Regions from separate parts of the Homo sapiens genome. Here region 2 is linked to region 1. Evidence: fine-mapped expression QTL. Tissue or cell type: tibial nerve. Region 1 holds a variant in brackets; the other region holds the start of a gene. All regions are shown on one strand. Distances are from middle to middle. Region 1 overlaps HKDC1 (hexokinase domain containing 1). Region 2 holds the start of HKDC1 (hexokinase domain containing 1).

Evidence for each region. PIP is the estimated chance that this variant, and not a neighbour inherited with it, causes the effect.
Region 2: it holds the start of HKDC1, and the variant in region 1 is fine-mapped to the expression of HKDC1 in tibial nerve (GTEx, PIP 0.99).

Annotation. Positions count from the first base shown.
Region 1 is chr10:69,240,648-69,245,647 of GRCh38, reverse strand. HKDC1 (hexokinase domain containing 1) reads right to left here. Exons shown (of 18, transcript NM_025130.4): 6 at 4,897-4,996; 7 at 2,283-2,466. Among named protein-coding and RNA genes, the nearest start is that of HKDC1, 23 kb to the right of the region's middle. The variant A/G (reference allele first, on the strand shown) is at 2,767.
Region 2 is chr10:69,217,792-69,223,265 of GRCh38, reverse strand. It overlaps HKDC1 (hexokinase domain containing 1), which reads right to left and starts at 2,934. Exons shown (of 18, transcript NM_025130.4): 1 at 2,768-2,934. The coding sequence starts at 2,830. It overlaps LOC101928994 (a long non-coding RNA gene), which reads left to right. Exons shown (of 5, transcript NR_120648.1): 3 at 41-99; 4 at 241-389. RefSeq lists an enhancer at 4,908-5,077.

The DNA.
Region 1 (5,000 bases):
CAACAATTCCTAATTGTTTCCCAGGCAGACTATTGAACATTATTATTATTATTATTATTATTATTATTATTATTATTGGAGACAGGATCTCGTTCTGTCACCCAGGCTAAAGTGCAGTGGTGCAATCATAGCTCACTGCAGCCTCGAACTCCTGGCCTCAAGTGATCCTCCTGCCTCAGCCTCCCATAGGGGTGCATCATCACACCTGGCTAATTTTTTTATTTTCGTAGAGACAGGATCTAATTATGTTGCCTAGGCTTATCATAAACTCCTGGCCTCCAGTGTTTCTCCTGCCCTGGCCTCCCGAAGCACTGGAATTACAGATAAGAGCCACCGCATCAGGCCTAAATATAATGCTTATTTTCCAAACACAATAAGACACAAAATCAAGAACAATCTATGTCACAATCTACTTTATATAGTTCACTATAAAAAGTCTTAGAACAGGCCAGGTACAGTGACTCATGCCTGTAATCCCAGCACTTTGGGAGGCCAAGGCGGGTGGATCACAAGGTCAAGAGTTTGAGACCAGCCTGGCCAATATGGTGAAACCCTGTCTCTACTAAAAATACAAAAAAATTAGCCGGGCATGGTGGCGCATGCCTGTAATCCCAGCTACTCAGGAGGCTGAGGCAGGGGAATTGCTTGAACCCAGAAGGCAGAGGTTGCAGTGAGCCAAGATTGCACCACTGCACTCCAGCCTTGGCGACAGAGTGAGACTCCATCTCAAAAAAAAAAGTCTTTGAGCATTGAAGAAACAGAAGACAATCAAAAGAAATTTAGGGTGGATGTCAGGGAATATAATATATATATATATTTTTTGAGACAGGGTCTTGCTCTGTTGCCCAGGCTGGAGTGCAATGGTATGATCACAGCTTACTGCACCCTGGACCTCCCTGGCTCAAGTGATCCTCCCACCTCAGTCTCCTGAGTGGTTGGAACTACAGGCATCTGCCATCACACCTGACTAATTTTTTTTTTTTAATTTTTATTTTTATAGAGACTGGTCTCACTATGTTGCCCAAGCTGGTCTCAAATTCCAGGACTAAAGCAGTCCTCCCACCTCAGCCTCCCAAAGTGCTGGGATTACACGCATGAGCCACCAGGCCTGGAAGGAATAGAATTTATTTTAAGTAAAATGGAAATGGGTGAAGATGATAAAATTCAAAAAATGGACACCACGTCCTTGGGACATGACTGCAATGGGTCACTAGAGCACAGGCATGTGCCTGGAGTAGGTGCCACCAAAGTGGAATGTGCTTCCCGGGTGCACAGTTCTAGTGTTTGAATCGCTCCTAGAAGGTGCTTGAAATTCACCAGCATGTCTTGACAAAATGGCTGATTCCAGGGCTGGGGCTAGGAAAGTGCGACATGAGCCGGGAACGTCTTACGGTGCCAGGAAATAAGGAAGTACTTAAAGAGTGATGGAACATGTCAAAAGGACACAGGAGGCAGCTTCAGAGGCTTCCTTTGGCCAAATCTGAAACAATTTGAGCATCAAAATAAAAATTGTGGACAGCAAACACAGAGGGAAGGTCCTGCCAGAGTCACCACTTGCTGAGTGATTAGGCCTCCGAGAAAGCAAGGCGGCTGGGGGACATGCGAACACGACGAGTTCGGCTGTGCCTGCCTTCTCCTCACTGCCCAGGTGTGTTCTGCGGCCAAGCGTCCGAGTGCTCTTATCTTCAGTGCCTATCATGCACATACGTAACCCACAAATACTGACTGAATTAGAATTAGGGTTATTAGGGTTATGACTTAGGGAAATCTTTCAATGTCCTTGGCTTCTATTTCCTCATTTGTCAGATGAAACTGAAATACAAGCAATGCCTTATAAATTTGTTGTAATGGGGCCATGCATGGTGGCTCATGCCTGTAATCCCAGCACTTTGGGAGGCTGAGGCGGGAGGATTGCCTGAGCTCAGGAGTGCAAAACCAGCCTAGCCAACATGGCAAAACCCTGACTCTACAAAAAATACAAAAATTAGCCAGGAATGGTGGCCCATGCCCGTAGTCCCAACTCCTCTGGAGACTGAGGTGGGAGGATTGCTTGAGCCTGGAAGGTGGAGGTTGCAGCGAGCCAAGATCGTGCCACCGCACTTCAGCCTGGGCTAGAGAGTGAGACTCCATCTCAAAAAAAAAAAAAAAGGAAAAAGAAAAAAAGAAAGAAAGTTGTGATGGATAGCTAGTCACAACTGGAAAGCCTCCCAGGTAGCCAGGGGACCTGAGTGATTAGGCACTGCCTGGTGCCGATGCCCAGATAACACCAGAAGGGAACTCACAGTTGCTTTCCTGGGTTGAGAGAGCCGAGGTCCAGCTCCCTGTCGAACTCAGTGCGAATGTCCTCCAGGGCCCCGTCGTCCCCGAAGGCCCCCCACTCTGTGTTGATGCACATCCTGCCCTCGTCGCCCTCCACCAGGTCAATGTTGCTCATGTCCTCCATGTAACACGCATTGGTGCCAGTTCCTGAACCAGGGATCAGAGAGAATATGCAGAGAGAGGACTCCCAGCTGGGCACAGACAGAGAACTCTTGACTGCTGGGGAGTCCTCCTCAATGTACCACAAAGTGCTTTTCATTCCCTGGGGGCTGGCTCTCGCTGAGGGAAGCAGCTTGGGCAAGCCCCAAGCACATGGGGAAAACAGCTGACATGTCAAGTCTGCACTTCTCAGGGTGCTCAGGGTTTGCTGTTCTGAATGGAGTCAATTGTGAAGAAGTCCGCTGATGAATATGGATGAAAGCTGACGAAGCGCTCTTACAAGAGGAC[A/G]AATGAAGATAATCTTGTAAATATTTTTTTCAAAAAATCACCAACCCAGGGTAATTTTGAAAATTCTTTCCTTAAGCTACTTAGCTTCCTCTCTATTTGATACTAAAAATATTCTTTACTTATGGCCTGCCACAAATTGTTTCTAGCATAAGCTGCATCCTTATCTTAGACTGTGATTAGCTACCACCTAAGAAAGCAACATTCCGTTATGCAAACACAAAATCGCTCCAAGGAAATGCCTCAAACACTTGAGCACTGGGGAATGACTGCAAGTGGGCACCATCTTTTTGGACTCTTTTGGGAGGACAGAAATGTTCTAAAATCGGATTGTGGTGATGGTTACAAAACTATACGTTTACTACAAATCATTGAATCGTATACCTAAAATCGGAGGACTTTTATGCCTCAATAAAGCTGTTTGAATTTTCGGGTTTTTTTTTTTTTTTTTTTTTCTTCAGTATCTTCCCTTGGCTGATACTCTGGTATGAGTATTTTAAATGCCAACATGGAAAATGAGAAATGTAGAAAAGCAGAATGTAATATTTGGAAAAAGCTTTTCTCAGAAATGCACGGACACTGTTTAGGCGTGGCCCCCCCAATCTGTGGTTACCAGACGCAGCCACAGTGACAGGCGGGTGCCATGACTGGCAAGGGCCTGAACCATTCTGAGGCTCCTGGAAACAGAAGGGTGGAGGGAGCCCCTCAGGTTTAAAAACCTGCCCTTTGGGAAAGCCAGGCTGAGGAGGGTCTTGAGGGACATTAAGAAAAAGCAATTCAGAAGAACTTTCCCCAGGAGTGGTAAAGGAATGGGAAAAGGAGAAGGGGATATTCAAGAACAACCTATAAGTCAGAGCCATTCAGCTTTACTGTACCCCAAACTGCCTTCCCACACATTCCTCCAGCTGACCCCCTCGCTCTGGTGTGGAGACCACCCACTGGAAACCCCCACTGCACCACGACCTCTCTGGTCCACAGCTGCAGTGCACCTTGCCTGACAGTCCAGTGGTCTCTTGGATGGTCACCCTGCTTCCACTCTTGTCCCCAGTAATCTATTATCCACACAGCAGCCAAAATGGGCTTTTAAAAAATGCACATCCGGCCGGGCGTGGTGGCTCATGGCTGTAATCCCAGCACTTTGGGAGACCAAGGCGGGTGAATCACTTGAGGTCAGGAGCTTGAGAGCAGCCTGGCAAACACTGTGAAACCCCATCTGTACTAAAAATACAAAAAATTGGCCAGCCGTGGTGGTGGGCACCTGTAATCCCAGCTACTCAGGAGGCTGAGGCAGGAGAATTGCTTGAGCCTGGGAGGCAGAGGTTGCAGTAAGCCAAGACTGTGCCACTGCACTCCAGCCTGGACGACAGAGCAAGACTCCGTCTCAAATAAAAAAATAAAATAAAATGCGCATCCATTTATCCATCCCCCACCCAGAGTCCCCCAGTGCCTTCCAGTCTCCCTCAGGGGATAAGCCGGTGACCTTACAGTGACTGTGTGCACATCCTGTGCAATCTGCCCAGTCTGTCCTCTGCCTCTCACTTGAATGGCCTCCGACTCTCAGCCTTCACTCACCTCATCCGGACACCACTCGGCTATAGGGTTCCCCCAGTGCCCCCTCCCTGGACCCCTTCCCATCTCCAAGCCTGTAGGTGTCCTCTTTCCTTTGGCAGGGACTCCCTACCCTCGGGCCTCCACCTTGCTCCCTGGTTTGCATCACTGAGGTCCCGGCTCAAATGCCACCCCTCAGAGAGGCTTCCCTGACGCCTCATCCCACTCACAGTCACATCACTCTCTTTGTTTTTTGTTTTTTGTTTTTTTATCACGCTAACCACCACCTGAAATTATCTTAATAGCCTAGGCCTTCTGGGCCTCTCACCCACCTCCCCACTGAAAGTTCCAGGAGCACAGGAACTCCCCACTCCAAACCCAGTGCCAAGCCCAGGGGCCGGCACACAATGGGTGCTCAGTAAACACTTGTCGAATGGATGAATGAATGAATTTTTCATGTCCCTATGTTGCTTCTCCTAAATAGTGCAGTGCCCTTCCCGCCGAATTCACTCAGAGCTCGCTGAAATGAAACTCCCAAACAGTCCCTTCTCCCCTACCCTCAAAAAACCAGTCCAATTGAGTTACCGATGATGACACCAACTTCGCAGTAGGGGTCGTCATAGGCACAGGTCATCATGGTCCCCACGGTGTCATTGACCAGGGCCAGGATGTCCACGTCCATGTCCTGC
Region 2 (5,474 bases), 23 kb after region 1:
ACAAGTAACATTTCCACTTTTTTGTAATGTTGACATACAGAGCCATGAAAAATACACACTGAAAACCTCCCAGTTCTCCTGTGGATGAACAATCTGCAGGTCAGTGACCAGGTCTGGCCTGGTGCTATCAATAGGTCAAATAATGTCAATATATTGAATTGGAAAAGAATCTGTCAGAGTGGTTTCTATTTTCGTTTTTTTCATTTTGTTTTATTTTTGTTTCCATGCTGGTATGGGAAGATTTTTAGAAATTGTTCCAGGGTCTCAGTAGTAACCCTTGCAGGCACCGCTGGCCCAGGATCTGGACAATTCTAGAGGCAGGAAGCACAGAGACGAAGAAGGGGACTCACTGCCTGACCGCAGAGAAACGAGCTGTGCCTTTTGACCAGGTGTGTTTCCACCACGTGTTGGGAGGAGTGTTCTCAGAACCATGACTCAGCCCAGCAGCCATAAACCAGTCTCCCACACTACCCCAGAGACTTCCTGGGGCACTTGCTTAAGGTGGCTATAAAAGTGCTTCCAACTTTCTCGCCTCCCACAGGGAGAGGGAGGTCAGCTCCCGGCATTGAAAAAGGCTGACTGTCCTTCCAGAAGGACCTGGAGCCCATCAGCAGAGGCTGCATTTCCCATCACAGGGTGCTCCTGAGCCTGCACCAGGGCTGTTGGACAAACATGTCCCGCATGATCCTAGGGTACAAAAGGTTAACCAACACAAAGGAGCCCAAGGAAATGAAATAAGTTTGCAGAATCAAAGGTTTCAGGGTTCCAAAGGCTCCCCCTTGGGGGTGGGAGAGACATGGTGCAACTTGTGCCTTTACTAAGCAGATAACAAAAGAAAGTGGATTCCTAGGCAGCGCCTCCTTAAGTAGCCAGTAGAGGGCTCTGAATCTAATCAACAAGTGATTGCTTTATAATGTTTTTAAATTTGCTACAACCTCTAACTCAACTCTCTAAATGAATAGAATTTAGTGGGAGTTTATCCCACCAAGTACCTGAGGGCTGTAAGGGGCCACACTTCCTCTCTCTCTTTCTTTGTTTTGTTTTGAGACGGAGTCTCATTCTGTTGCCCAGGCTGGAGTACAATGGCATGATCTCGGCTCACTGTAACCTCTGCTGCCCGGGTTCAAGGGATTCTCCTGCCTCAGCCTTCTGAGTAGTTGGGATTACAGGCGCACTCCACCACGCCCAGCTAATTTTTAAATTTTTAGTAGAGACGGGGTTTCACCATGTTGGCCAGGGTGGTCTCAACCTCCTGACCTCAGGTGATCCACCCACCTTGGCCTCCCAAAGTGCTGGGATTATAGGTATGAGCCACCATCCTTGGCCTTTTTTTTTCTTTTCTTTCCTTTTTTTTTCAGACAGGGTCTCACTCTGTCACCCAGGCTGGAGTGCAGTAGCGCAGTCTCCCGGGCTCAAGCCATCCTGCCACCGCAGCCTCCCGAGTAGTTGGGACTGTAGGCACACACCACCATGACCGGCTAATTTTTACATGTTTTGTAGAGATGGGGTTGCTCCATGTTGCCCAGGCTGGTCTCAAACTCCTGACCTCAAGTTTGAGATGAGATCTGCTCATCTCAGCCTCCCAGTGTATGCAGATTACAGCCGTGAGCCACGGTGCCTGGCCTCCTTATTCATTTTGTAAAGCAGGAGGGAGTCATGGCACAGCAGAAAGCATTGAAGGAAGAGTCAGCCAACTTGGATTTAATCCTCATTCCATCCTAAATACTTGGTGACCTTGGCTAAGTCCTCCTGCTAGGAGGACTTCTGTCATCTGCACTTTGAGAGATGCTTTTTGCCCAGGGCCGTGACAGCCAGCCGGTGTGGCCAGAGTAGCAGACTGGGCTCATTTTAGCTGCCTGGAAAGAACCCTGGTTCCCTCCTGTTGACCCTTGGCAACCTTTAACCAGCCCACTTTGGAATGAATTTTGTAGACAAGTTCCCTGAGCAAAGTGACAAAATAATGCACACCATGAATAGTGTACCATTGGCAAATAGCAGGTGCCAATAATAGATATTTCAATTACTGTCTATTGCAACTCACACCTTCTTGCTGCCCACATTTATATGCTTTCAAATACATGAACAAACAGATCTGCCCCAACAGTTCTTTTTTTTTAGATGAAGTCTCACTCTTGTCCCCTAGGCTGGAGTGCAATGGCGCGATCTCGGCTCACTGCAACCTCCACCACCTGGGTTCAAGCGATTCTCCTGCCTCAGCCTCCCGAGTAGATGGGATTACAGGTGCCCGCCACCACACCCAGCTAATTTTTGTATTTTTAGTTGAGACGGGGTTTCACCATGTTGGCCAGGCTGGTCTCGAACTCCTGACCTCAGGTAATCCGCCCACCTCGGCCTCCTAAAGTGCTAGGATTACAGGCGTGAGCCACTGCGCCCAGCCTTCTGCTCCAACAGTTCTTAAAACTTCTTTGAAAATGATTCTCCTCGCCTTTGTGGCCTTTCCGAGCAAACATCCCTTACAGCAAACACAATCCTCTTCAAGCTTTCCAAACACCCTCCTCACCCGCTTCCGCATCCAATACCTGCCAGGAAGTTCCGAGTGAAGTGTAAGGTTCAGGACAGTAATGCAATGCCCAGGAGTGTGGGAGAATTACTCCCTCTTCCCTCAGTGAGTCTTTTACTGGTCATATGCTCCCAGTATCTTTTCTAATAAGCTCTCTTCACTCCCTTCTGATTTTTTTTTTAAGGGAATCAGTTTTGTCCGTGAAGAAGGAGCTGGGCATCTCTCAGCTTCGTGGGTCCTCCTTACCTTCTTGATCTGGTCCTCCTTCAGCTTGCTGAAGTAAAATGCCATCAAGTGGACCGCAAACATTTTCCCCAAGTTTGGTTTCTCCTGAGATGGGCAGAGATTCCTGTGCAGTGTTCACTCCTACGACTCTGGAGTGTTGCACGCTTCCAGTCCAGGCTGGCAGACCTCCTGGGGAGCGAGGTGTTGCGGACTAAATACCTCCAGCCTGCTTGGTTCAATGATTAAACTCCCCCCCACCCCACCCCTTTGGTCCCTCCCTCTGGCACACACTTGATTGTCTAATAGGAGGCTCTGGATGGTAGCTGAGGTTTAGTGGAGGGGGAAGCAGGGTATTGATGGGTTGCTTGACTACTTGAGAATTGGGTGCCACCAAATCTCATTGCTAAGCAACCCTCTCAAGCCGGGGCTCTGCCAAGCCCACTCAGCCGAGGAAAATCTTCTGCGAAGTTGGGCACTAAACAAAGCCAACTTTCAACCGGTGGAGCTGCTCTGCAAATTTCCAGTCCCAGGCTTTTCTCTTTAGTTTTTTATGCCAGTGGCATAACTCTGTGACCCCCTGCTCCTCAGAAGCACTGAACTAACTAAAACTAAACATTGTCCTGGTCAATGGGATTTCAAGAATGTTGGGGCAGATTCTTCCATTTGTGACAGATCAGATCTCTTAACTAATAGCCCATGGTTAACAGAAAATGATCAATAAATGTTTACCTATTCACAGTGTTAAGCCAGAAAATCTTTAGTTCACAGGTAGTGACCCAGGAAAAAATATTCCTGAGAAAGAGTGAACTGAAGTCACCAGTGCTCACTGGGAATCACTGCTGGAGAGAAGGAAGTCACAGATAAGAAATGTCTCAGTCCAGCCGGGTGCAGTGACTCACGCCTGTAACAATCGCAGCACTTGGGGAGGCCGAGGCAGGCAGATCATGAGGTCAGGAGTTCGAGACCAGCCTGGCCAACATGGTGAAACCCCATCTCTACTAAAAATACAAAAAACTTAGCCAGGAGTGGTGGCAGGTGCCTGTAATCCCAGCTACTTGGGAGGCTGAGGCAGGAGAATCACTTGAACCTGGGAGGCAGAGGTTGCAGTGAGCCGAGATCGCGCCATTGCACTCCAGCCTGGGTGACAAGAGCAAAACTCCATCTCAAAAAAAGAAAAAAAAGAGAAATGTCTCAGGCCACTGAGATGTTTTATTCACTCACTTCTCACTCATCATACTTGACATGAGAAGGACCCAGAAAGCACCCAATACATGGGTACAATCAACCTTGCACTCTTCCCACAGTCACTGGCTGGCTAATGAAACCAATAACAACAGCGTTAACAACAGCGGCTAACATGGATGGAGCATTTACCAATCCCATTTTGTTTTTATTACTCTTGTTATTATTATTTTTTAGACAGGGTCTCATTCATCCCCCAGGCTGGAATGCAGTCGTGGAATCATGACTCGCTGCAACATCAGCCTTCTGGGCTCAGGTGATCCTCCCATCTCAATCCCCAGGGTAGCTGGGGCTACAGGCACGTGGCACCATGCCCAGCTAATTTTTGTATTTTTGTAGAGATAGGGTTTTGCCATGTTGCCCTGGCTGGTCTTGAATTCCTGGGCTCAAGCGATTTACCCACCTCAGCCTCCCAAAGTGTTGGAATTACAGGCATGAGCCACTGCTCCCGGCCCACTCTTATTTTATAGATGAAAAAATTGAGGCCCAGAAAGGTTACGTGATCACAAAGCCATAAACAGGACAGCAAGGGGTCAATCCTGGAAGTTTGATTCCAGGGCCCAGCTATAATACATGGCATTGGCTCTCCAGCCCTGCTTTCTCCACGCAATAGATACTCAATAGATACGCAATTGATAACTATTAGTAGCAGCATTCTGTTGGGATGTTAAGAATTTGTTTTTCTTTTTCTTTTTTTTGAGACAGAGTCTCACTCTGTTGCCCAGGCTGGAGTACAGTGGCTCAATCTCAACTCACTGCAACCTCCACCTCCTGGGTTAAAGCAATTCTCCTGCCTCAGCCTCCTGAGTAGCTGGAATTCAGTGCTCTCTACCCATTGCCGTGTGGACGAGCCATCAGGTCTCACTTAAGCCCACAATGCAGAGGAGGCTCGGTTAAAATTACTCCAGATGCTTTATTCAGATTGATATAAGCATATTAAAACTGTCTCCCAGATTGAGGATCCCCATCCTTTTCAGTCAATTTACCCTCAGACTATGACTTTTAGCTTGCTCCTTTATTACACAAGCAAACAAAGATGAACCTTTAGTTCCCCAAACCATTCAGTGCCCCAAACCAGGTGGAATTGTTGGTATTCTGAAATGCGCATCCTAGGCCCTAGCCCCCATTGGCTGAGGATAACATCCTGGGAAGGCCATCTGCCCGTAAGTGATGACATTATTTATCCTAATTCCCCCACTAGTTGATTTATTTCAGAAACAGAGTCTCACTACATCTTGTCTTGCCCAGGCTGGATTTGAACTCCATCCAGTCTTGCCCAGGCTGGATTCGAACTCCTGGGCTCAAGTGATCCTCTGGCTTCAGCCTCCTGAGTAGCTAGGACTACAGGCTTGCATCACCACACCCAGCATTTAATTCCCCCATTTAAAAAGTAACCTGGGCTGGGCGCAGTGGCTCACACCTGTAATCCCAGCACTTTGGGAGGCTGAGGTGGGAGGTGGGCAGATTGCCTGAGGTCAGGAGTTCG